4 linked regions of the Homo sapiens genome follow. The protein of the gene in region 4 purifies or fractionates together with the protein of the main gene of each other region. This does not show direct contact. Each region holds a gene or a part of one and is shown on either strand. Other genes may lie near its edges.

Region 1 (6,212 bases), on a different chromosome or scaffold from region 4:
TGAGGCAGGAGAGTCGCTTGAACCTAGGAGACAGAGGCTGCAGTGAACCAAGATCGCATCACTGCACTCCAGCCTGGGCGACAGAGCAAGACTCCGTGTCAAAAAAAAAAAAAAAAAAAAAAAGTTCTCCACCCCCTCCTAGAAAAAAATTTTCTCCTAGAAGGAAAATTTGTCTGACTCAGAGAAAATTTAGACAAGAAGAGAAAATCTGTTTTCATGCTAGCACATCTGAAGACAATGGTCTCTGTCTCTCATGAGCAGGGATATTTTTCCTTCCCAAATAGATGTTTCTTCTAATAGCTGAGTGGTACTTTCTGTCTGTGCTGTGTTTGAAGTATAAGTTTTAGAAATCCCAGGAGGCTTCGAGGAAGGCAGAGGTCAGCTTCAGCTTATACTGAGGGCCTGCTTGGGCTTCTCAAAGGTGACCAGAGCCCGGGAGGGAGGATGACAGTGGCCCTCCTCAGCCACCCCCATCCCAGGTTTGTTGCTCCTGCTCAGATGCCATATTTTTAAAATACTTTATTTTTTACATAATACTGTCATTACAAAAAAATACAAAAAAACTACTATAAAAACATTCGGGGGTTGTCAAAGTGAGAAAACCTAAAGACCCCACCCCAGGATCTGGCTGAAGCAGTCTTCCCCCAGCTTCTTCACTATGACCTTTATACAACTATGGGGGTGGGGTGGGATCACACAGGCATAAAAGGGCTGGAAATTCCCCACACAGCCTCCAAGGGTAAGAAATGAGTAGCTTCACATATCACAAAAGTGGGATTTGGAAGTTTGGGGGTGGCTAGGCCCTGAGTTCAGAGGTGTGGGGAAAAACCTGTGACCCTGAATCTCTTGGTGGGGAATAGCTGCCACCTGACCCCAAAGCCCTTTCCCTTCCTGATGAAGGCTGGTAGATGGGCCCTGTCCCCCACCTCTTAGCCTTAATACCTCAGGCCCCATTCCCTGCCCTCCACCCTTGAACACTCCTGAGAGCAGCAGGGAGGACAGAACCTCCAGCTCTGCAGGTGTAGGCAGGGCAGCTGTTACGGAGGCTGCTGAGGAGCTCACCCCCCTGCTCCAGATGAAAAGTGTCTCGTGCTCAAGTCCCTGTTCACAGGTTGTGAACTTTCCCTTCTTATCCTCTCTCCTTTCTCCCAGAGAGGCACAGACAGCTCTAGGTGAGTGCTTCTTGTGCATGAATATGTGTGCCATTACCTTGGACACTGTGGACCTGGGGGTGGGGCTGAGAAAGCAATGTCCTTTCTAGTCTTTTCCACCCCCAACAGCAGGAAGCCAAAGGGAAGGGAGGGGACTGGTATTAGCAAAGCTGAGGGGAGGAGGACATGCTATGTACAGGCATGGATAAGGAATCTCTACATATCTTCAAGTAGCACTCAGGTCACTCTCCAGCCACTGCAGTGGAAACTGGATTGAAAGCTAGTGACATGAACATTGACCCCTGGCCTGGGCTAGCTCTCCCCACCTCCCTCCCACTCCCCCCAGGCAGCCCAGCTCTAAAAGGGGTCAGGGACAGGAACATTTTCCTGAAAACCAGTGGCTTTTTTTTGCATTTTAGAAAAAGTTGCCAGTGTCCAGTGGACATCAAGCTGGGTGCACATTGAGTGGAGTGAGTGTTGGGGGTATTGCTGTGGTAGGCTCTGGACTGGCTGGGGCAGAGCCTAGGAACAGGGTAGGTGCTGCTTAAGGATCTGTCTTGTCTGTGGTGTTAATCTGTCTGGGAAGCGAACTTTGAACTCAACAATGAGGTCTCCTCGCTGAGTTGGCACTTTGGGGAAGGGAAGGCCCTCCCCACGGAGTCTCTTCACGGTGCCTGGCTTGATGACATCATTGCAGGGCAAAGGGATCACTCGGCCGTCGATAGTGGGAATGTTCACAGTGCAGCCACACAGCGCCTGGGAAAGACGAAGCAGAAAGTGAGGAAAAGGTGGGGTAAGGTGAGTGGGAAGGAAGGAAATAGACTGAGGTGGGGAAAGAATGTGCCAGCTGGCGGGAAGAGAGGGAATGTCCCCACCATCTCCCCAGCACACACACACAGCCTGACTAGGCCCCACCTCCTTGAGGCTGATCAGGGCACTGTAGAGCACGTTGGTGCCATCTCGGCGGAAGTGTGCATGGGGCTTGTCTTTGAGCACAAAGACGATGTCAGCAGGGATGTTGTCAGGTGTGGCGTCGCCTTCTTTGGGGAAGGTGATCTTGGTGCCTTCCTTCCAGCCACGCTTGATGACTATGTGCAGGATCTTGTCCTCGGTGCGCACAGTTCGCCCATCAGGGTTGAGGCGACGCCTTGTGATCTTCATGCGCTTGGTGGAGCCATGGTAGATCTCCTCCAGGGACACCCGCAGCTCGTGCACCACTGGGGGGTCCTGCACCTTGCGCCGAGGGTACAGTGGTTCTGGGGCTCGCCTTGGACCCCTACTCAGCCCATTGAAGCCAAAACGGCCGAAAGCGCCAAATGGGTCCTCATCTTCATCCACATCCATGTCATCTGGGTCAAAGCCACTGAAGGGCCGAGTGGAGCGGCTGCTGGCAAAGAAGATATCGAAGGGGTTGGAGCCACCAAAGAAGGAGGCAAAGGTGGCATGGGGGTCCCCATGAAAGGTGTAGTGAAAGGAGCCACTGGAGCCACCTGATGTGCCACCGCCGGTCTTCAGGCCTAGAGGGGAGGAGAAGTTAGGGGCAGTGTGGCTTATTCTGGCCCCAATCCCAGTGTCTTCCCCCTGCCCTCTAGCTCCCAGTTCACAGGCTTAAAGAAAGAAGCAACCTTTAAATCCCACAGAGAGGGCCAGGCTAATAGAGTAAGAAAGGCTTCTGGCAAGATTATCTTCCATTCCTAATTATATATTTAATAACGATGCACAACTTGAGATTCAAAGAGGCTTGCTTACCCAATAGGTGGAAAAGCCAGGACTAGAGGACTTAGAGGATGTGACTTCCAGTCCTGTAATCTTTTCCACATACTCATGGTCCAAAGATGTCTCAAAAAGCCTTGAATGACTAGCCTGGTGTCACATTACAAGTGATACTTGGTTCCCAAATCTTTGCTTATCTCCAAAGACATATAGGACAAGGGGCCATCAGACAGGATGTGACCACAGAGGGGGCTGGTAAGTGAACAGTCGCAAATAGGCTAGGGATCCAACCCGGGAGGAAGACCACTTTCACTCTGCTTCTAGCAGTGTTTCCTCTTTCCCTGGCCCCTGCTCAAACGGGAAATCAGGAAGCCTTAAAAAGTGGGAAAGCTCATTAGCTTGGAGATGAAGAGCTATTTTTCTAGAAAAAGTTTTTAAATGCTTTGTTCCCACACTCTGCTCGGTGTTACACAACTTTAGGGAGTGTCATTCACACATTGTACAGACATAGACTACAATGGGAATGGAGCTCCCTGGAGTTATACAACAGCAAACGCCATACCCCACACCTAATGTTGAGCAACCAAAATGCATGAATGGGCTGGCACATGGCAGTGGTGACCTTAGCTGCTCTCTCTGTCAGGTCCTGTCTAAGGGGCTCAGATTCCTGGAGGCAGCCTTCATGCACAGGAGGGGGTGCTGGCAGTAGTGGGGGATGTGGGGAGACGGTTCACACTGAGAACTGCTCCGGAATACAGAGACTATGGGTGGGGTCCAGGCTAGGAAAGAGACCCTTCTCTTTGAGGCCATTTATCTAGAATTTCAACTGATCATGGAGATCTGAGCCTAAATTAGCCTCTTATTTCCTGGGACCACAAGGGCAGATTTGAGTTTCACTAGAGAGGCCAAGTGGCAGACGGTTCAGGGACTTGTGGCAGCTGCCTCTTCACCCCTCCCCCAAGACCTAGGATCTCTCCTTTCCTTCTATCGAGGGGCTGATTATCAAGCGAGTTCAAGCAGCCTGGCAGAGCTCAGTGAGAGAGGGAGGGAGGCTGGACTGATGATGATGGGAAGGGGTAATTCTCTCTATAGGGATTTCTATTCTTCCACTACCACCCCCTTTTCAAGCTGGGAGCAACTTGTCCCTAGCTGGAGCTGCACACAGAGTCTGTGTGTATAACTGCTCTATAATAAATGGCTGCTGGGGATTGGGCAGGGTGGACAGAAATATAACCAACATTTCTAAGCTGCTTCTCCCTCCCCAGGCCATGGAGGTCCCCTTAAGGCCATGCCGCATCCTCAGGGGCCTTCCTGGGATGGGGTTCTGCATCAGAACCTGGTGTCTGGACCCCTTCACTTAGGCAGAAGGGGTGAAGTATCTCAAGGGAGCTCTCCCAGCTCCTGCCTTCTTTCTAAACAAAGGTGAGGCTGAATGGAGGAATGGGTGCAATTCCAAGACAGGTCACATGGTGGCATGGTGTCTGCACTGCTTCCCTCTTTTCCACTCCTATCCCTCCCATCCCTCCATGCCAGAGAGAAAAATGTCTTAGCTGAAAGAATACTGGGGGTTCCAGCCGGTATCTGGTGAATCTGGGAGTTGGCACGTCTAGGAGGTAGGCAGGAAGAATGGAAGGAACCGGCAGCATGGAGAATAGGAAAAGGGAGTTGGGAGGATGAGGGTTCACAGAGGGGCATGGAACACAAGGCCAGGAGGAGGGGAAGAAAATAACCTTCTTATCTACATATGATTAGCCCATTTAGTTTTGAGGATAGAAAGGGGAGGGTGAAGAGGAGGAGAATGTGAAAGAAAGGTGGATTCTGTTGGGGAGGAAGGACAGTTCTTCCCAGGAAGGAGAGTCCTCAGCGTGACAATGTCTCTTAATATAGCCTGACAGGTGCCTGTGGCTGGCGGGTGGCAGGCAGCCCTGAGGGGCAGGCCCAGAATTAGCAGCTACATCATGGCCGTGGGATGTGCTGGGAGGGGCCTCCCTCTCAGAGGCTTTATTTGGGCCTTTCCTGCCTCCCACCCCATGGCCACCAGCTACCCCAGGGAAGGGGGAAGATGCCAGCAGCAGTTCCCCGTCCACCCTTGGATCCCTGCCACTTCCTCTGGGAGGCAAAGCTCCACCTCTGTTCTGCTGGCCAGAAGCAGGCAGGGCCGGGGGAGAGAAGGGGAAAACCATTTCTGCTCAGAGCTCTGGTAGTTAATTCCCAGGCTGCTTAAGGGCCAGACTTTTATGCTGATGAATGTAAATGCTCTGTCCTCAGAGAGCCACACACTCCCTCTCCCCAACCTTCCTCATCAGCCAATGAAGCAGCGGAGACTTCAGGCAGGACTAATAAGGCTGGGAAGGAAAGAAGGGCGGGGAAGGCCTCTGGCTCTTGCTTCAGACCTCTCTAAGGCCTGAACCCGAGGAGGGAGGGGGCAGAGAGAGGCGGGGAGAACTAGGGTGAGCTGAGCTGGGTAGTGGGTGGGCTTCTCTCTTCTCTGGGTGACAGTGCTGGAAACCCTTGCTGCCCTCACCCCCTCCACAGCCTCCAGTTCCCCGCTACACAAACTGGTGCACCTGGGACCCCTACCAAGCGGAGGGGTCCGGGATTGGGCTGGAGTGCTGCCCTCTTACCTTCCTCCCCATACTGGTCATACAGGCCCCGTTTCTTGGGGTCACTTAGCACATCATAGGCCTCTGCAATCTCCTTAAACTTCTCCTCAGCGTTGGGTTCTTTATTCTTGTCTGGGTGGTACTTCAAGGCCATCTTCCGGTAGGCTTTCTTGATCTCATCCTCGTTGGCCCCCGATGGGATCCCAAGAATCTTGTAATAATCTTTTCCCATCACAGCCACTGGACCAGCACTGGTCTCCTTGTTTCTGAAAGAAACCCAGGGCCAAGACTTGATGCCTTCTCTTCTGCCCCAGCCCTGTTCCTGATGATCTTGCAATCCCTAAATGACTCCCTGGGTAACCTTCAGCAGGTCATGCCTGTTCTGTGGGCCTGCGTCCCCCCATCTGTAAAATGAAAGGTTTGGACTAGATGATCTCTTCTGGCTCTGACATTCTAGAATTCTGTGATTCCGTCCTCACCTCCTGGGTTTTCCCAGCAGGAAGCTGAAGGTTGTGGCCCACTCTTGGGGCTAGGCTGAGGCCCTGGTCCTTGGGCCAGACTGAGGACCCCTGAGAGGCCCTGCTGAGCGAGGTGGCACCATGGACTGAGCGACCCACACACAGGAGCTGGCGAAGGTCAGTGTAACGGGTGAGGTCACCTGAGCATCGTGGTCTCCTACGCCACGCCTCAGGCATGGTGCCCAGGCTGAGGGCAGCTGGGGCAGTGGCCCAGGACCGGGAACAGG
Region 2 (7,028 bases), on a different chromosome or scaffold from region 4:
TGACCCCATGACGGCTTTTACAAATCATAAGCAAAAACTGCAGTCAGACTCTACTCAGATTTCCCGCCTATGCTCCTAGGACAGAGCTGGAAGGGAAGGAGGCTGGGCCTATTTAGTCATAATGCCTCCCCATCAGGTCTAGCTTTCATTCATCCATGAATCCTCACCCAAGGGCCAAGAACTGAGTTCACTGCACCCTGGACCCCTGTTGAGGTAGGAGAAGTAGACGTTGGGAGCAAGGATCCTCTCCTAATTTTGTTGCATCCCCTCAGTGCCCAGCACAGCTCCGGATACAGGGCAGGTTCACAGTCAGCGTGTTCACCTGGGTCTGTGTATGCACCTAAGAAAAGCCTCAACTCTCCTCCAAGAAACAGAAGAGGCAAAACAAACATAAGACCCCCCAAACTTCCAAACTCACAAGCTAAAGGCTATAAAAAGACTGTTTTCATTTCACTGAGAAACACTTCTTTGATCCAAAACCTATTTTTGTGCCTTTTTTGGGGGGAAATAATTATGCCCAAGGCCTGGGGCAAGCTCAAGCCTGCTGGAGGCAGAGGTGGCCCCAAGGGCAGGGCAGGCAGAGAAAGGCCCATTCTGGGGCTGGCCCTGGGAGGATGTGCAGGGTTTCAACCACCTGCCATTTCCCCAGAAGCAAGAAAGCCTCTGAGGTTGGAGTGAACACTGCATGCATCTACAGTGGAGACCCAATCACCATTACAGACAAAAAGCTCTAGAAACTGCAAAGTTGGGGTTAAGTTAGAGTCTAGGAACTGCAGTCATGCACAGCTGGCGACCAGCCAAAGGCATTTTACTGAGCAATGTTTGACTTTTGTAGGTCCCCCAGCAACATTGAGCACATGGATCTCCCTGGCCAGACAGGGCTGGGGTTTAATGTGGAGCTTTCAATGGATCACAGCAAACACTCTCTCCAAACTCCTTCCTGCATGCTGGCCTCACTCCACTCTCAGGTTCCTAGAACCAATGCCACTCTTCTAGGTCCTGCAGAATCCATGGGCAGGGATGCACGGGTTGTTTCTGAGCAAGCAGCATCTGCGAGGGCCTACCTGAAGGACTCTGGGAGGGACACAAGGGCTTTCCCAGAGGGTAGGTCCCTCCATGTGCCCTGCAGCAGCCACGGTACCTTTTCTACCATATGGGAGTCAGTGGGCTGATGGGCTGGTGATAAGAAACAGGGAGGGGGCGTAATGGTCACAAAAGGAAGGAAACACAAGAGGCCGAAGGAGTCCTCACTAGTGTAAGGGGTGTGGGAGAAGGCAGAGGTCCCTGAAAACAGGGGGATGGATTCATAAACTCTCCTCAAATCCAAGAGAAGCACAGCAAGCCAGGGATCATGGGCTCAGAGGTCAGCCAGGCAGAAGATTCTAGAGTCAGCTCTTGTTCTTGTCTTGAGACCACCAGAGAAATTCAAGGCCGGTGGGTGTGTGGCAGAACCAGAACTGGAACCCATGTCTTCTGCCCCTGAGACCTGCACTCTGTGCCTCCCAGAGCTGCTGTTCCTCCAGTCGGGCTGAAGAACGAAGGCTCAGGTGGCCTGGAAGAAAGTGTTTCATGGTGCCCATGTGAGAAGGCCTGGGCGTCCTACCCTGCTATCTACATCTGTAAAGAAGGGCCAGGCCTCTGACCTCAAGGCGTGCTGTCCTGCAGGCTCTGGGCAGGCACAAGGTCCTCCTCTCACCAGTGGGGCAAGGATGAGACATGCTTATGTGGGATCAGGAACACAGCTATTCAGATCCAATTGGGAGGAGGGTGAGTGCTCCCTTGGGGCTCCTGTGGGAGGAAGGAGCTGCTTCCTCTAAGAGGAGGAGCTTGAATCTGCACCAGAGGCTTGGACCAAAGAACTGACCTACCCATGTGAGCATGCCCCTAGCTGTGCCTCCTGGTGACCCTGCCGAAGTGTCAGCCTGTTAGCCCAGCTCCCAGACCCTGGGCCGAGCAACCTCTGGTCATGGCCGGTGGTGCTGAGCTTGGGGACAGGGCCACACATTTTGGCTCTCTACATACTCTGGATTCTATACAATCACGCTGGCCACACATGACAGACACAAGGCACAACACATCCATTAGGACAGCAAGTCCATGTCACACTGCACAAATTACATATGTCCCACGGCACAGTGGATGCACAGACAGACCAGCGGAGCTGAGGGGCAGGCGCCTCTGTGTCTCTGTGCTTCTTGGCTCCAGCTGGCAGAACGAGGGCTGTGCACTCTGCTTGCCCATTTTCCCAGCATTCCCCCAGAGCCCCATGCATCCATCAGAAGTGAAATCAAGAAGAAATCTGCTTTCAGCATCCTGGGCAGGCCTGCTGGTGCTGCTTGGTCACTCTGGGCATTGGCTGAACTTTCATGGGTATAAATTGTCTATCAAGAGATTATTCACAACCAAACTTAAGGACCCACTAGGCTCACCTCCTGAGCACACACAGATAAAATACAATAAATACAACTGATCCCCTAATGTCTGCCAGGGCCCCTGGTCAGTGGCCGAGCAGCCGCGGCTGCAGGGGAGAGTGGAGCAATGATGCGCCTGGGGACACACAGCGGGGGAGATGGCTTCTGGTGGGGGGCCTGCGGCAGGGCAAGCAGGGCGAGGGTGGGCCTCATTCACATGGGCATCGACATCACAGTATGGGTGGCACTGTACAGCAGGAGCCTCACTCTGGCCGCAGCTACTCAGAAAACGGTGGAAACATGCCCAGGTCGGCAAAGTCTTCGATGTTATAGTTGCCAGTCCCCTGGGTTGGATCTCCTGGCATGGGCAGCATGTCCTGCAGAGGAGAGGAAAAGAGAGCCACAGGGGAGTCAGCTCCTCTGTCCGTGCACTGGGCATGTCCCAGGAGCCCAGTCTGCACTCACCCTCATGGCCATCCCTAAAGGGGCAGCCCAGAGGTCCTCCCCAGCCTTCTGCGGGATGCTCTGCAAGGGTCCTCAAATGTCTGAGACCCGGGGAAACTGTTCTCCCCAGGGAGCTGTTGTGACAGCAGGTAAACGGCATTAGGACATGCCCTTTGTCTATCTAAGGTTGAGTCAGGGACCCAGGGTAGACGAGAACCCCACTGGCGGGGAGACCCCAGGCTGGCCCCAAGCAAGGTGCACCTAACAGATAGCAGATGGCCAAAATATAAGAGAAATGCAACGCAGAGTGGAGTGGAAGGAAGATGTATGTGGAGACCTGGCTGGCCTGTCTTCCATGTTTATCTTAGCGCAGGGACGAATCCCTGAATGGTTAGATTTCAGTTTCAACATGTCTTTCCAGTCCTCTGGGCCTCAGATGACCCATCCAGAAAACGGGAATAGCACTATTTTAGTTTCTTACAGCCAATTCCCCAACATGTGTTCTGTTGAATTCTCAGCCCATGTGATACTCTGTGAGAAAAGAATTCTGTGGACAAATAAGTTTGGGAAACAAGGCACACTTTGCCTACCTCCTAGAAATCCAGTCCTTATTGGTGTAATAAAAGCTCTGATACGTCCTGCAATAAAGAAACTCAATAACTTTGTTTAACCAGTTTTTCGTAAGCTTATTTGGCCAAGAATTCTTTTTAGCATCGTGACCATGAAGATCCATGTCAGGAAATTCTGCCTTACAGGGTTGCTGTGGGGCCTCAGAATGGGCAAGGAACAAGGCCTTACAGAAGGAGGAAGGAGGAGATGGCTGCAGTCAGGGGAGGCAGGCGAAGGCCTGGGTGAGCCGTTCCCCTGTACATTCACAGAATGCTGCCCTGAGTGACATCTGAGTCCCAGGCCTTTGTCTGTGAAGACACAGCTGACCCCGGCAGGAGAGGGGCTTGGGATGAGGGTGGGGTATATGGAGCACTGATTCTTGAGAAGGAGGGGTTGCAATCCTGGGAGTCTCAGAACCCTCCCACGATGTGGTTCCTGCCCCTATCATTGCTTTGCAGGGCAGGCCTGGGGCATGCAGGACGTGCCTGGGTTCCTGTTAGAAGGACCTGGAGGGATGGCTGAAGGGGAGTTAATGGGCTCGTACCTCCATTTGAAGCCTTCCAGTAGGAATGTTTCTGGCTGAAAGTTGAGCCAAGGAAGCCCACAAAGGGCAGGGGCCTGCTCTGTGGGGCTGCAGCAGTGCCATCCCCAGCCACACAGTCTGCCTTAGACACGAGGGATGGTCTAGAAAGGTCTCAAATAATGGAGAGTTTCAAGGTGCCCAGGTATCCTCAATCGGGGACTCTCCCTGAGCTTAACCACAGAGGAGAGCAGAGCCAGGGCAAGGCTGGCACTGAGCAAGGGCCTGGGTGGGGATGTCCTCCACATCCTGGGGGCTACGGTGGGAAGAAAGAGGGTCAGCCAGTGACAGACAGCCAAGCCTGGGGGTGCCTGCAGCTCTTAGGAGAGACCCCCTTTGGCCTTGGTTTTGTGCCTCTACCCTGGATAGCTCTGGAGTCTGGGAAGCATCTCCAACTGCAGCCTCCTCTATTGTGTGGCTTAGCTCGAAGGCTACATCAGCCCCTTCTCCTTCCCACATGCACCTGACGTTTCTGGCTGGGTAGGATGGGGCTTTCTACTCCTGGACTCCCTCGAGCCCAGGCTGGGCCAGAACTCACGACGGCTATCGGGCAGGCGGTGGTGCGGCAGAGACCGAGGGGGAAAGGAAGCAGAGAGAAGGCGCCGGTACCTACGAGAAGGCGGTGCTCGCTCGATTTACCTGGAACACTTCAGTCTGACCGGGCTGCTGGTGGGAGTGCTGCTCACCGCTCTGCTGGCCATGGTGCTGGCTTTGCCACTGCGACCAGACTTCCGAGGGCCGCCCTTGGAACTGCCCGCTACTTTGTCCACTTTCAGCTGAAAGATTCGACACACAGGACACTTCCTTTAAAAGCCATCCCGTGGTTCTGTGAGACCTAAGAACCACTGCGGCTGGAGGGCCTCCCGCTTCTGAAAGGCACGTTCCATCCAGAGCTGGCGGAATGTGTTTGCTATCCTCGTCTTTCTCACTGGCTGACAGATCATAAATGGAGTGGATAAGAGACACAGGAGCCCTTTGCCCAATGGTGCAGGTACTTGGCCAGAGAGGATGGCTCTTCCTGAGGTCACCTGCCAGGTGACTAGGTGCTTTAAGCCTTGGAGTGCTCCTTGCACTTGGTGACTGTGCACAAAGGCCTCCTGCGGGCATCTGGGGGGCAAGGGGCATATCTGTTGCATGCAGAGTGTGGGCTGAGAGAGGGTCTGTCCTCAGCAGTATGGTGTTGGCATGAGGAGGAAGACACACCTGCCCCTGCTCCTGATTCCCTCTCGGTCCACCGAATGCTCTTGAAAGGCATCTGGCCCTGCTAGAGGAAAAGCCTCATCTTGGCATTCCCAACCTCAGCCTCTGCCCCCGAGCAACTCCTCGGAAGCCACACACGCATTATACAAGGTCCCCCTACAGGGCCAAGCACCACAGTCTTTTCCTGCCTGGCTCTTTGGCAGAGTGTTTTCTTTGCGTCAGTTTGTTTGCAGGGGAAGAAATTTGGGCACTGGTCAGACAAGATAAGGTTCCTCTGTGGGAATCAGCAAATTCATTTATAAATGAGAGCCACTTTGCTTCTGTCTACAGTTTATACAAAAAAACAGCCAATGGAAGAAAACAAAAAATAGGAAACATAAGTGGAATTGGTTTTTTACATACGAGAAAGAGTCTTATTCCACTGCCCTGGCTGGAATGCAGTGGTGCAATCATGGCTCACTTCAGCCTTGAAATCCTGGGCTCAACCAATCCTCCAGCCTCAGCCTCCCTCATAGCTGGGACTACAGGCTCATGCCACATTGCCTGACTAATTAAAAAACATTTTTTTTTTAGAGATGGGGTCTGGCTCTGTTGCCCAGGTTGGTCTCAAACTCCTGGCCTCATGCAGTCCCCCTGCTCTGGCCTCCCAAAGTGCTGGGATGAGTGAGCCACTGTGCCTATCCAGTAAGTGGTTTTTTGTCGAAAAACATTTTTGAGATTCAACCAAAGAGGATCCAGTAAGTGGAATTTTGTCTAAAAACGTTTTTGAGATTCAACCAAAGAGGAGGCTTAAAAAAATACCTTCAGAGAAGATACCTTTAAGGAACATCAAAAATCTTAGAAGCTTTTTTTCTTGTTTCAAATCATTCAGTACCATTTTGGAGATAATGGGCTCTCTGTCAAGCTCTGGGTGGCAAGAGAAGCCCCATCTTGTCCCATACTACTCTTTCCAACGATCATGCTGGCCACGGGGAAGCCTCAGGCCCCACCCAACCCCCAGCCTGGGCACTGCGTTAATGTGAGGCCAGGTTAGAAAGTGTTCAGGGAGAAGAATCTCTCTCTCTCCCTCGCTCTCTCTCCCACCCATCCACCCATATATAATGCCTGAGACATAAAGGGCTTTAATAAAATGCATAAGGTCCCTTTAATGCCTTACCATTGGTGCTTTTCAAACTCTACATGATGACAATAGTTGGTAAGGAATTCTATAAAATTGAGGCAGGGTACATTCCCCTCCTTAGCATAAGAGAGATTTAAATCTACTGTGCACATAGGATTCTGCTATAAAAAATTCATCTGCCTATGTGAAATGTCTTTTCCTAATGATCCCACACAAGACCCCAAGGGCCAGGAGGAACTCTTTCATAGAATCGTGTCGACTGGCCTCATTAATTGGCTTAGCAGAGGGAAGGCTGGGTCCACAACTGTGGCAAAGTTAAAACAGTAGCATCGCCAGCTGGAGCTACGAGGAAATTCCCACCTGACAGGCACCTGTCCCATTCTGGAAGCCTGCAGAGGCTGAGCACAAGATGGGGCCTTCAGTGGGTCCATGTTGCTTGGCAGAAGGGTGGAGGGACATAGCCACCTGTGCTGAAGGAAGGGCATGGTAGACTGGGGGAATGTCCTTATGCATTCAGGAAGATGACTGCCACACAGGCTCACCCAGGATGCTGCTGCAATGATGGTTTCCTTGGGGCTTGCCCATCACAAATCAATGCCCTCAGCCCTTCCTCCTTAAAGTACATACCTACCTCTCCTTCCCTTTGCCATCAACATTTACAGCC
Region 3 (7,028 bases), on a different chromosome or scaffold from region 4:
TAGCAGTGGCCCCGATAGACACTCCATTTGGCACATTTGCTTTCCAATTATTCTCAAGATCAGACATAATTAGAAAGACATCAATATATTTAAATATGGGCAATAATGATTCACAATGAGCTAACTATTTTAGGTTTATATTTTTCCTCAACATATGCTTCCCCATAAATTTATCAGAGCGTTATTTGAACAAAATATAGAGATTTAATAAATATTTGAAAAGTAACAAGGTTCTTTACATACTTTTTAAAAAAATACTTTTTGTTCCCAAAGTACCTCTACTTCATATTAGTTTTTATGCATAATCTACTAATTAGAATGTATTAACTCATTTTTACAGAAAATCAATGGTTTTATTTCTTTGCAGTGAGCCCCATGCACGGTTCTATGCAGCTCAGATAGTGCTAACATTCGAGTACCTCCATTCACTAGACCTCATCTACAGAGATCTAAAACCTGAAAATCTCTTAATTGACCATCAAGGCTATATCCAGGTATGACTTTAACACATTATGTGTACTGTATATGAGAAAATACTAGGCAAGACATTGTATGTATGTAACCCCAACTTGGAATTTTTTTTGAAGAAGACACTTTCTCCTAATAGTTTAAGTAGAGCTCAGAGTTTTGCTGCTATTACAGAGAAGCAAAAATCCTGTTATGAAAGGAACTTGTTTATATCTCCATTAATCTATAGTTGTGAACTGAGTATAGCCTCTTGCATAAGGAGATATTAATAGCTAAATCTATGAGCAGTTATTAGTGCCAGGCATATTCCACTTGTTTTACATGTATTATTTCTTTAATCCTGATAAACCTATGAAGTGGAAATACCATTGTTATCTTCATTTTAAGATTAACAAAACTAAGACATAGCAAGGTCATTTAGCCAATAAATGGTAGAGTCAGAATTTGAACCTAGGCAGTCTGATCCCAGAGTCCATGCCCTTTACGACTACAATATAACTGCCAAAGAATCCCTGACTACCAATACTGAACTCGTAGCAACGTTTTCTTTCCACTTCTACTACTAATAAAGTGGGAGCATTTCTTTTTACACAATTATTGATAGATTCTCCCATTGACGTTTTTACACTTCTGATGGTGCAACTAATGGCAGAGGACACATTGGGGTAAGGCAGACATTTAGCATTGTTTCATTTTTATTAATGCTATTTATTTTTACCTTTTATTTTCACTTTTTTATTCCTTGGGTCTAGGATCTTATAATAATGACTGAAAAGAGTTTTGTTGTTATTAATTTGTTCCTTTTCTTTGAGTTGAGGAAGGATTTCCAACTTGGATTGTTTAAACTTTCATTCACTAGATATTCATGAATGAATTTCAATTACGTGGACTTAATTTTTTTTCCATTTCTTTCATAGTTTCAATTTGAATTTTAAACTTTCAACGTAGGTGCAATAAATACATTTATTGTGAGGTAATACATTTTCACTAGTATTCTTTTTTTCTTTTATAGGTCACAGACTTTGGGTTTGCCAAAAGAGTTAAAGGCAGAACTTGGACATTATGTGGAACTCCAGAGTATTTGGCTCCAGAAATAATTCTCAGCAAGGTATATTCATAATATCAACACATAAGAAGTAGAAATATGAGACATGCATCCCTATGGACTTTTGTAAAAACAGTTTATTGATCTAATTTTACATTTTTAATTTGATCTAAGTTATGAATTTAAATCTATTTGTGCATGATTACTAAAGAATTATTATTTAGCATCTACCACTAATCCTGTAACCTCTGTCAATTTTAACTCTGGGTCTTAGAGATATAATATGAATAAATATGACCTCTAGATCCATGTTTTGCAACCAAAAACATAGTCTTTTCTTAATTATTCCTAGTAACGGAAGGGTAGAGAAGACTTGCTCTGGATTATACCAAGAGGTAAATCTAGAGATGATATGTACTAGTTGTCCATTCTTTCTTTGTTTCAAATTTACCAGTTAAATAAAAGGAATGTATGAGAAGTGTTTTTAAATTTTAAATAGGACTATTAACAGCAATTGAATAGTTTTAGTCTTATTGAAGGCAGCTCTGCTTTTCTAAATAGTGAAACGTGGTGAGAGAAACTGTACCTATATCCAAAAGAATGGTTAACTTTTCCTCTGCCATCACTTGGTGGAGAAATCTAGAAAGGAGAACCTAACAATAACCAGGCACAAATAGGAGAGAGGAAAAGGAAGGGGATAAGACACATGCTTCACTGGTTCCCAAATGGAATCATTGAAATATGGCTAACTTATAGAAGTGTTAAAATAAAAGATTTCTTTCAACTTTTCTCTCATTATCTTTCATAATTTAAATAATATGTAACTTCTTGATATTTTATAATCTAAATATCATTGTAGTTAACACATTTCTTTAAATACAGTTAACAAATAATGGGACAACAAAATGAGCACTAAAACTTTTACAAATGTGTATATATTGTAAAAGTAATACTCATTATACAAAATTTAGAAAATACAGAAAAACATAAACAAACAACCAAAAAAAAACCTATATGTAATCCCACCAACCTAGACGCAGCCTTTTTAAAAACATTCATATATGTATGTACATATATGTATATATGTGTATATGTGTATATATATACACCACATATATGTGTATATATGTGTATATATATACACATATGTGTGGTGTGTGTGTATATATGTATATGTGTATATATACATATATATTCATATATATGTGTATACGCATATATGTATATATGTATATGTGTATATATACATATATGCGTATATATACACATATATACGCATATGTATGCATATATATATGCGTATATATGCATATATGTATATATATGCGTATATATGCATATATGTATATATATGCATATATATATATATATACACACACATTTTAGCTTTATTTTAGCTTTCATTTTAGGTTCAGGGATACATGTGAAGGTTGGTTACAGACGTAAACTCATGTCATGGGGGTTTGTTATACAGATTATTTCATCACTCAGGAATTAAGCCCAGTACCCATAGTTATCTTTTCTTATCCTCTCCCTCCTCCCTACCTCCACCCTCAAGTAGAATCCAGTATCTGTTTTTTCCTTCTTTGTCTTCATAAATTCTCATCATTTAGCTCCCACTTACAAGTGAAAACATGTGGTATTTGGTTTTCTGTTCTGCATTAGTTTGCTGAGGATGATAGCCTCCAGCTCCATCCATGTTCATGCAAAAGACATGATCTCATTCCTTTTTATAGCTGCATAGTATTCCGTAGTGTATATGTACCACATTTTCTTTGTCTAGTCTACAATTGGTGGACATGTAGGTTGATTCCATGTCTTTGCTTTTGTGAATAGTGCCACAATGAATAAACAAATGCATGTGTCTTTATGATGAAATGATTTATAATCCTCTGGGTGTATACCCAGTAGTGGGATTGCTGGGTCGAATGGTAGTTCTGCTTTTAGCTCTTTGAGGAATCTCCATACTGCTTTCCACAATGGTTGAACTAATTTACACTCCTACCAACAGTGTCTAAGTGTTCACTTTTCTCTGCAACCTTGCCAGCATCTGTTATTTTTTGACTATTTGTTTATTTATTTATTTATTTATTTATTTTCTGGAGATGGAGTCTTGCTCTGTCGCCCAGGCTGCAGTGCAGTGGCGTGATCTCGGTTCACTACAACCTCTGCCTCCTGAGTTCAAGCGATTCTCGTGCTTCAGGCTCCCAAGTAGCTGGGACTACCGGCATGCACTACAACACCTGGTTAATTTTTGTATTTTTTAGTAGAGACAGGGTTTCACCATATTGGTCAGGCTGGTCTTGAACTCCCGACCTCAAGTGGTGCACCCTCCTTGGCCTCTCAAAGTGCTGGGATTACAGGGGTGAGCCACTATGCCCTTCCATTTTTTTACTTTTTAGTAATAGCCATTCTGACTGGTGTGGAATGGTATCTCATTGTGGTTTTGACTTGCTTGCATTTCTCTAATGATCGGTGATATTGAGCATTTTTTCATATCTTTGTTGGCCGCATGTATGTCTTGTTTTAGAAAGTGTCAGTTCATGTCCTTTGCCCACCTTTTCATGGGGTTGTTTGTTTCTTGTAAATTTGTTTAAGTTCCTCATAGATGCTGGATATTAGACCTTTGGCAGATGCATATGGTTTGCAAATATTTTCTCCCATTCTGTAGGTTGTCTGTTTACCGTTGATAGTTTCTTTTGCTGTGCAGAATCTCTTCAGTTTAATTAGATCCCACTTGACAGTGTTTGCTTTTGTTGGAATTGCTTTTGGTGTCTTTGTCATGAAACCTTTGTCCATTCTTATGTCCAGGGTGGCATTGCCTAGGTTGTCTTTCAAGGTTTTTATACTCCGGGGTTTTGCATTTAGGTCTTTAATCCATTTTGAGTTGATTTTTGTATATGGTATAAGGAAGGGATCTATCTTCAGTCTTTTGCATGTGGCTAGCCAGTTATCCCAGCACCATTTATTGAGTAGGGAAACTTTTCCCCATTGCTTGGTTTTGTCAGCTTTGTCAAAGATCGGGTGGTCGTAGGTGTATGGACTTATTTCTGGGTTGTCATAGTTGAAATCATAGTAAATATATATAGTCTTGTCTCTGACTTTTTTCACTTTTATAATAACAAGCATGCAAACATCATTCTAATGGCTTGTTTGTAAATGTACCATAAAATATGTAGCCACTCTTCTATCGTTGAGTGTTCAGGTTTTATTTTTGATTTTTTTATTATTATAAATAACTATGATAAACATCCTTATACATAAAAGTTTTTTCCTTATTTTACATTATTTCCTTAGCATATATTCCCAGAAGTAGAATTACTGGGTCAAGGAATAGGAACATTTTTAAGGCTTTTGATACATATTGCCAAATTGCTTTCCAAAGTTATTATGCCATTTTACACTTCTACCATTAGTGTATTATAGTGCCTATTTCATAACACTATCACTGGGTATACTCATTTTTAAAATATTTACTGATTTCATAGGCAATAAATTGTATCTCATTGTTTTAATTCTCATGTTTTTTATTTATTTTTCAAATGGTTAATAGCCATTTGGTATTTCTTTATGTGTCTGTAAATTATTAGTTCATTTCCTTGGCCCATTTATCTATTGTAATTTAACATTTTTCTTATTGATGTGTTTTGATTTCTATACCTTGGGTATTAACTTGTGTCTGACATATTTACTATAAACATTAGCACACAATTTAAACATATGAATCAAAAAGTTAAAGAGAGTTAATGCCTATTTCTATTAAAAAACAAAGTGCTATTCCTGTTATACCACTCCTTCCCTTAAAAAGATATACACAGTATCAGGAAAAAAAAGAGAAAAAGAAAATCTCTATAGCGCTAAAGTATTATATTTTTGCTAGAATTTTGAAAACTAAGTAGTTTGTAAAGCTAAAATTTTGACAAAAGGGTGGAATGTGGTGAGTCGTGATGGTAGAGGGTACCTCTGAGGGCAGAGCAATAGATCTGGGTAGAATTCAGCTTATTTCTCTTCATGACAGGTTTTTGGGGTTGTTAAAAAATCTCTTGTGTCAGTTGATACTGACCATAGTTAATAAACTATATTAGCATGTTAATATGAAGATGTTATTCTTATTTATTTTCTTATGAATACTTACAAATTTTAATTTTAGTAAGCTTAATATGAAAAAAACAAACATAACCTGTGATTTTTACATTTGGTTTGCAAAGCACTTTTTACACACGTTACTCCCTTTCATTTGATACAGTCCTCACAAAACTCTGTGAATTCATTTTTTTCCTGCATATCTTTTAGATATAGGAAGCAAGACAGTAGATAGCAGAAGTAAAGTATACCTAAATATTTACATGAATTGAATTTTACATTAAACTTTTTGCTTTCACAAAATCCTATGAAGCAGATGGGATTATCCCTAGCACATTCACCCTCCTAACTCCAAAAATATAGAGTATTTTGAAGTCAACTTCATTATTTACTATGTAGTCCAGTTTCTATTATTTTCTTTGAAAACTTTTGATCTTTCTAGGCATGCTGTGGAAAATCTGTTTCATAAGATTATGGACCTAGAGTGGGCCTTAAGAAGTAATGTGGTCTAACTGCCTTCCTGTTATTGAGCAAGAACTAAATTATACCAGTGAAATAAAGAAAATTTCATTGTCTATAATATTCTTAATAATTTTAGGAAGAAGATTTAATACTCTTTCCTAATATCCAATTTCAGTATCTGGAAATCCTCTCCTTTGTTTAATTTAAATCTGACCTGATACATTTGGTTCATTTTTAAATTCTGTCCTGAATAGCTGCTCAGCAATTGCTTTAAAAAAATTTTTATATGCTTCCAGATCATTTTGAAATTATCTTTGACTTCATTCTCTTTTGAGTAACTTAAGTAACAATTGACATTGGTGTTGGTTTATCTCAGGGCTACAATAAGGCAGTGGATTGGTGGGCATTAGGAGTGCTAATCTATGAAATGGCAGCTGGCTATCCCCCATTCTTTGCAGACCAACCAATTCAGATTTATGAAAAGATTGTTTCTGGAAAGGTAAGTAAAACATTTTATTATTCCTCTCTTATTACTGTATATGAATTTTAAGCTTCATGAATTGAAACTATATTGTGTCATAATTATTATTCTACATTGGGAAAAATATAGAAAAATCTACAGTTGCTGCTCTTACTATCATAAGAATTGAATCATTTCAGTCTCTTAAGAAAAAAAGGGCAGTTTTATAAAGAAATTAACAAAACAGTAAAGCAATTTCTGTATTTAGTATTTTTATCACAAAGAACAGGATCATAGCCATAATTCTCGATATTCCTTCAAATAAATAAAAATAGTTTATTATTTCATGTGTCTATCTTCATGGAGAAAAGTTTTAGGGGCTGTTTTATATGCCCTTCCATTTTCAGGAGAGACTTCTTGTTTTAATTATGTCCAATACTATAACATTGGAAGTAAAAGTAAATATAAAATGAATAAGCCTTTTTCAGATGGAAATTTATAGAATTGATT
Region 4 (7,028 bases):
TTGAACTCTTAGGCTAAAGCAATTCTCTTACCTCAGCCTCCCAAAGTTCTGGGTTTACAGGCATAAGCCACCACACCGGGCCTGGATTTTATTTTATTTTATTTTTTTGAGATGGAGTCTCACTCTGTCACCCAGGCTGGAGTGCAGCGGTGAGATCTCAGCTCACTGCAACCTCTGACTCCTGGGTAGAAGCGACTCTCCTGCCTCAGCCTCCTGAGTAGCTGGGACTACAGGCACGTGCCACCATGCCCAGCTAATTTTTTGTTTGTTTGTTTTGTTTTAAATCTTGCTCTGTCACCTAGACTGGAGTGCAGTGGCATGATCTCGGCTCACTGCAACCTCTGCCCTCCGGGTTCAAGCGATTCTCCTGCCTTAGCCTCCCGAGTAGTTGGGATTACAGGAGCATGGCACCATGTCCAGCTAATTTTTTTGTATTTTTAGTAGAGATGGGGTTTCACCTTATTAGCCAGGATGGTCTCCATCTCCTGACCTGGTGATCTGCCTGCCTCGGCCTCCCAAAGTACTGGGATTACAGGCTTGAGTCACCACTCCTGGCCTGGATTTAAATTTTTTTTTTTTTTTTTTTGAGACAGAGTCTCGCTCTGTCGCTAGGCTGGAGTGCAGTGGTGCAATCTCCGCCTCCCGGGTTCAAGCGATTCTCCTGCCTCAGCCTTTCAAGTAGCTGGGATTACAGGCGCATGCCACCACGCCCAGCTAATTTTTGTATTTTTAGTAGAGACAAGGTTTCACCATGTTGGTCTTGATCTCTTGACCTCGTGATCCACCTGCCTCGGCCTCCCAAAGTGCTGGGATTACAGGCGTGAGCCACCGCACCGGCCTGGATTTTAATTTTAATTGTATATAAATGGCTGCATGTGGCTAGTGGCTTCTGGAATGGACAGCCAGGACCCAAAGGTTCCTTGGAGCTTCCCAGGGGCCAAGGTGGGAGGTGGGGCTCACCTGTGGGCTCTGGCCCCGGGCTGGATGCCTCCTCACAGGCCACGCTGGCTGGAAGCTGGAAGGCATCCAAAGGAGTTTGGCCACCCTCGGCTTGGCTGGGGAGAAGATGGATGCGGTTAGGAGCCAGGGGTCCTTGGCCTCTCAGGACTCCCTCCTGCTTTACCCAACTTGTGGCAATGTGTGGACACTCCCACGGGGAAATGTGGAGTCCCCACCCTGAGGCACTTACAAGGCTCAACACCAGATCCCTAAACTCCGGGTTGACTTCTAGCCCAGCGTGGCCCTCGCTCCTAAGGCCAGACCTGGATAGCCGGTGGCCACCTGGATGTCACCACCTGGGTGTCCTCTGGCACCTCATGCCCATCTGATGTCTACATCTTCCTTTCAAACCTGCTGTTCCTCTCAGGAGCCCAAATCCGGGCTCAGCAAAGCCAGAGACCTGGGCAGAAGATGGTCTCCTCCCCTCCTCCCCCATAGAGTCTGGCACTTCCCAGGACTGGCCCCAGCCTCTGCCCTGGTCCTCCAGCGCCCATCTTGTCCCTCAGTGCCTCCTTCATGGCAGCTAGAAGGGTTTTTTTGTTTGCTTGCTTGTTTTTGAGATGGAGTCTCACTGTGTTGCCCAGGCTGGAGTGCAGTGGCATGATCTTGGCTCACTGCAACCTCCACCTCCCGGGTTCAAGTAATTCTCCTGCTTCAGCCTCCCGAGTAGCTGGGATTACAGGCGTGCACCACTATGCCCAGCTAATTTTTTTTAAATTTTTAGTAGAGATGAGGTTTCACTGTCTTGGCCAGGCTGGTCTTCAACTCCTGACCTCGTGATCCACCCACCTCGGCCTCCCAAAGTGCTGGGATTCCAGGCGTGAGCCACTGTGCCTGGCCTAGAAGGGTGTTTTTTCCTTTTTTTTTTTTTTTTTTTTTTTTTTTTGAGACAGGGTCTCACTCTGTCGCCCAGGCTGGAGAGCAGTGGCACGATCACGGCTCACTGCAGCCTCGACCTCCTGGGCTCAGGTGATCCTCCCACCTCAGCCTCTGCTGTAGCTGGGACCACAGGTGCGTGCCACTGTAACGGGCCAATTAAAAAAATTTTTTTTTAATAGAGATGGGACCTCACTTGGTTGCCCAGGCTGGTCTTCAGCTCCTGGGCTCAGGCAAACCACCTGCCTTGGCCTCCCAAATTGTTGGGATTACAGGCATGAGCCACCATGTCCGGTCTAGAGCAGTCTTTCTAAAAAGCAGATCTGACTATGATCCTCTCCAGCTCTAAAGCTTTCTATGACTCCCCAGTGCCCCTGAGCCAAAAGGCCAGGCCGTCATCTTCAGGCTGGTTTCTCACTGCTTTCTACTCCAGCCCAAGGCATTACCTTTAGGGTCAGGCTGTTGCTTGGAGCCCTTCCTCTGCTTGGAACACCCCTCCCTGCTTCTTTCCATTAGTTGCTGTGCTCTGTGGGCCTCCCCTGGTAAGAGCCTGCCGTGGCTCGCCAGTGCCCCAGAGTCAAGAGTCCAGACCCTCCACCTGAGCCTGAGGAGGCTGTGAGCCTGCCCCTGCCTTCCTCAAAGATACTGTCCCCCTCCCCCTGGCGACTCCTCTCTGTCTCCTGCCAGCAAGACCGTTCCACTCTGGGCCTCTGCTCTCACCATCCTCCCCTCCTTCCCCTTCGTGTCTGCAGACCCCCTGGGCTTGTCCCATTCTAGAAGCCCTCCCCAAAGCACCCCCACTGGAGGTGGGGAGAGACAGCAGGGCCCTGAGTGCCCTGCAGGAGGGGTGGGCACAGCCCTCACCTGAGCACGTGGCTGACCCAAAGCACATGGTGCTCCCCGGGGCTCTTCCCGCTCCCAGCCACTGTGGCCACAGACTGCAGCCACACGAAGCCCCCGGCACGCTGCAGCCAACGGTAGTAACCAGTCATCACCTGACCCTTGTCCAGCACTGGGCCCAGCCCAGGGAGAGATGGGAAGGGGGTGGGGTGGGGACAGGGGCAAGACAGAGAGCCAGGTAGACAGGAGGAGACAGGAGGAGTGAGAGCAGGGGAGTGGGCAGGGAGACGGTGGGGAGAAGAGAAAAAGGTGAAAGCACAGAGAGGCAGAGTCAGAGAGACTGAGAGGTAGCCCAGCAGCGAGGCCTCTTGGGTGTTTTGGAGACCCCACAGCCCCCCAGACCCCCCCCCCACACACACATCCTGAGGCATCACTCAGTCTCCTTGCTGCTCTTCCAATGCTAAACGGAGTCCCTGGAGCTGTAGGTGCAGCAGGAGGGACTGTGGGCAGCCCTGAAGAAGGACTTCCAGGGACCAGGGAGTGGGATGCTCGGGTCTGGGGGGTGGTAGGCAGGCTTGGTGGGTGGAGGTGGGTCTCACAGTCCACGTGGCTCTGGCGGATCCTCGTGGCGTCCTGTCCGTGGACAAACTGGTAGCAGCTGCGGCCCACCAGCTCTGAGGGCCCCAGGTCCATGTGGTCGCTGACTCTGGGGGGTGACAGAGAAGAGGGGAGGAGTCCAAGACCACGGGGTTGGGGGAGAGGCAGAGTTGGCTCCAGAGTCCCCTGGGGTTCACACCCTTGCTGTAAAATGGGTGCAATAACAGTGTTGGCAGGCGCGGTGGCTCACACCTGTAATCCCAGCACTTTGGGAGGCTGAGGCGTGTGGATCACTTGAGGTCAGGAGTTCGAGACCAGCCTGCCTAAGATGGTGAAACCCCGTCTCTACTAAAAATACAAAAATTAGCTGGTTGTGGTGGTGCACGCCTATAATCCCAGCTACTTGAGAGGCTGAGGCAAGAGAATCACTTGAACCCGGGAGGTGGAGGTTGCAGTGAGCTGAGATTGCGCCACTGCACTCCAGCCTGACAGAGTGAGACTCCATCTCAAAACAAACAAACAAACAAACCACAAAACAGTGTCTCTCCCGGGGCAGCTGCGAGTATTCGCGTGGATGCTAGTGGCAAGGCCCTAGGCACCCTGGACACCTCAGAGCATGGGACTATTTCAGCACTTAATTTGCCTCCACTGCGGGATGCAGGAGAGGAAATGGATGAGAGATGAAAGACCAGAGAAATGAGAAATGAAAGACCAGAGACGGGCCAAGATCTGCAGCCCCAGAAGGAGGGCCCGGACCCAAGACACAGCCCCTCTTCCATCCCCGAAGGCACCCCTGGGCTAGGCCTCCGCCCTGGTCCCCTGCCTTCCCTCCCTTCTCCCCATCACCCTGTCCCATCCATTGCTGTTCCGCCTCCCATGGCTCCCCAGTGCCCTATCCTGCAGACCCAGCACTCCCTCTGACTCCCCATGTACCCCCAGATCTCCATTGTGCCCCCAATCCACCCGCCACAGCCCCCAACCCCGGTACCTGCTCTCACAAGCAAGGATGGTGAGACCCAGGCTGAGACGGAAGACGATCATGTGTCCATGGAGTGGCAGCTCAGCCAGGGGGGCCGGGGGCAACGTGTGCCCGAGGGCCACAAGGCCCAGGGCGTGGGCCCGAAGGCGCCCAGTCACGTGGATGACCTGCTGGTGGTGGGCATGGTTGGAGGAGGGACAAGGCGGGCCAGTGGGGGCAAGAGGACCATCACTGGGCTGGGTTCCCTCTGTCCCCCACAGGTGCTGGAGGACTGGACACTGTGTGACCCCCCCAGTCCCATTCCCAGACCCAGTTCCCTAAGCCACCTGCAGCCAGTGAAGCCACCAGCCTGGTTCCCTCGGTCACCCTCAATCTGGGGACATGGCTGCCTGGAATACAGGAGCCTGACTGCTCACACCCACCTTGTACCCTGAGGCCTTGACGTGCAGCCCCCTCTTGGTGAGCGTGGATTTCATGCGGACAAAGAAGGAGCGCTCCTGGACCAGGGAGGAGGGGGGCACCTTGGTGAGGCTGGCCTCTGGGACAGAGAGTGAAGGAAGGTTATGGGGTCCTGAAGAGGAAACACACAGGCCACCCTGACCCTTGCAGAGCCAGCCGGACATAGACACAAGATGTCCGCTGGGCCACGGCCGCACTCAGAGGCATGCCTGATGATTTTGAAAGCTCATGGGGACAGTATGTGGGCTCCCCTATGTGGCAGCCATCCGCATCCTTTCTTTTTTTTTTTGAGACTGAATATCACTCTGTTGTCCAGGCTGGAGTGAATGGCGCAATCTTGGCTCACTGCAACCTCCGCCTCCTGGGTTCAAGTGATTCTTCTGCCTCAGCCTCCCAAGTAGCTGGGATTACAGGCACATGCTACCATGCCCGACTAATTTTTGTATTTTTAGTAGAGACGGGGTTTTGCCATGTTGGCCAGGCTGGTTTTGAACTCCTGACTTCAAGGGATCTGCCCTCCTTGGCCTCCCAAGGTGCTACGATTACATGTGTGAGCCACCATGTCTGGTCCCATCCATGTCTTTTTTTTTTTTTTTTTTGAGCTGGAGTCTCGCTCTGTCACCAGGCTAGAGTGCAGTGGCACGATCTCGGCCTACTGCGACCTCCGTCTCCCCAGTTCAAGTGATTCTCCTGCCTCAGCTTCCTGAGTAGCTGGAATTACAGGCACGCGCCATCATGCCCAGCTAGTTTTTGTATTTTTAGTAGAGACGGGGTATCGCCATGTTGGCCAGGATGGTCTCAATCTCTTGACCTCGTGATCTGGCCGCCTCGGCCTCCCAAAGTGCTGGGATTACAGGCGTGAGCCACTGCGCCTGGCCCCATCTACGTCTTTCTAATGCTCAAACGTGCCTCCACCCTCCCCTGCTCTGAACCTGCCATAGCTTCCTGAGGCCTTGAGAGGAAAGCCCACCTCTCAGGACCCATCCTCCAGGTCTCAGCACAGACTTCTCCTCCTCCAAGAAGCCCTCCCTGACCCTCAGGCTGGGTCAGCCATCCCCTCTGGGTTCCCCTATCCCAGCCCTGCCCCATCTGGGTTGCCACTGTCTGAGGACAGGTTGGTCTCCCCTCACTGGACTGGGAGCCCCAGGTGGGTGGGGCTGGAGCTGTCATGGTCACTCCTATGTCACCAGGACAGGGGCTGGCCCAGAACAGGGGATTGGGGAATAGCAATAAATAAGACTCACAAATCCAGATCCTTCTGTAACCCCTACAAAACGGTCTTAAAAATATGCTCACACACAGATGACCCTGTGCCTAAAACTCAGGTACAAACACAGTCCCACTCCCCAACAGCCTGCACGTGTTGCAGACTTCGCCCCACGCTTGCAAGCACAGCTGATGTCTCAGATGTTTTTGGTGTTAAGCAAACCCAAGATTGGAAAATCCTATTTACAGGATAGTTAGCCTCATAGGCCCCCAACATCTCAGAGCTAAAAAGAGCCGGCAGGGTAATCTGCAGCACCCTCCCTCCCATACACAGTGGGAGTGGAAATTTCCACTGGAGAGAAGGGTTAGGCGTGCTGACCCCGGAACAGACAGACCTGGGCTAGAATCCAACTCAATCACTTATAGCTGTGTGACCTGGGGGCAATTAACTTAACCTCTCCGCGCCGTGCCTCAGTTTTCTGATGTAAAATGGAGATAACACTTCTTGCATTGTGGGCCTGCGCTTAGGATCTAATGCAATTTTTTTTTTTTTTTTTTTTTTTTTTTTTTGGAGACGGAGTCTCACTCAGAGTGCAATGGCCTGATCTCGGCTCAGTGCAACCTCCACCTCCCAGGTTCAAGCGATTCTCCTGCCTCAGCATCCTGAGTATCTGGGATCACAGGCACCTGCACCACGCCCGGCTAATTTTTGTATTTTTAGTAGAGATGGGGTTTCACCATGCTGGCCAGGCTGGTCTCGAACTCCCGACCTCAGGTGATCCGCCCACTTCGGCCTCCCAAAGTGCTGGGATTACAGGCGTGAGCCACCGCACCCAGCCTTTTTTTTTTTTTTTTTCCAGACACTGGCTCTGTCACCCGGGCTGGAGTGCAGCAACGTGATCTCCTCACTGCAACCTCTGTCCCCAAGGCTCAAGCCATCCTCCCACCTCCCAAGTAGCTGGGACCACTGGCATGTGTCATCATGCCCAGCTAATGTTTTTTTCTTTCTTTTGTTGTTGTTGTTTTTTTTGGAGACAGTCTTGGACTCGCCCAGGCTGGAGTGCAGTGGCAC

The links.
Region 1: the proteins of NPAS1 (region 4) and DNAJB5 purify together in Homo sapiens (affinity purification with mass spectrometry; 2 studies listed by BioGRID and IntAct, with this or other methods). This does not show direct contact.
Region 2: the proteins of NPAS1 (region 4) and ARNT2 purify together in Homo sapiens (co-immunoprecipitation; 3 studies listed by BioGRID and IntAct, with this or other methods). This does not show direct contact.
Region 3: the proteins of NPAS1 (region 4) and PRKACB purify together in Homo sapiens (affinity purification with mass spectrometry; 2 studies listed by BioGRID and IntAct, with this or other methods). This does not show direct contact.

The regions. Positions count from the first base shown.
Region 1 is NC_000009.12:34,992,721-34,998,932, reverse strand, and holds the end of DNAJB5 (dnaJ homolog subfamily B member 5), read right to left. Parts: intron 5,734-6,212; coding exon 5,489-5,733; intron 2,669-5,488; coding exon 2,067-2,668; intron 1,908-2,066; coding exon 1,674-1,907; 3' UTR 505-1,673; downstream 1-504.
Region 2 is NC_000015.10:80,589,360-80,596,387, reverse strand, and holds part of ARNT2 (aryl hydrocarbon receptor nuclear translocator 2), read right to left. Parts: intron 4,821-7,028; coding exon 4,684-4,820; intron 2,789-4,683; coding exon 2,690-2,788; 3' UTR 1-2,689. UniProt on the Homo sapiens protein: Transcription factor that plays a role in the development of the hypothalamo-pituitary axis, postnatal brain growth, and visual and renal function. Specifically recognizes the xenobiotic response element (XRE).
Region 3 is NC_000001.11:84,196,249-84,203,276, forward strand, and holds part of PRKACB (cAMP-dependent protein kinase catalytic subunit beta), read left to right. Parts: intron 1-367; coding exon 368-494; intron 495-1,480; coding exon 1,481-1,576; intron 1,577-6,434; coding exon 6,435-6,557; intron 6,558-7,028. UniProt on the Homo sapiens protein: Mediates cAMP-dependent signaling triggered by receptor binding to GPCRs.
Region 4 is NC_000019.10:47,036,837-47,043,864, reverse strand, and holds part of NPAS1 (neuronal PAS domain-containing protein 1), read right to left. Parts: intron 4,830-7,028; coding exon 4,714-4,829; intron 4,462-4,713; coding exon of another isoform or gene 4,459-4,461; coding exon 4,301-4,458; intron 3,422-4,300; coding exon 3,315-3,421; coding exon of another isoform or gene 3,135-3,314; intron 2,888-3,134; coding exon 2,740-2,887; intron 1,056-2,739; coding exon 961-1,055; intron 1-960. UniProt on the Homo sapiens protein: May control regulatory pathways relevant to schizophrenia and to psychotic illness. May play a role in late central nervous system development by modulating EPO expression in response to cellular oxygen level.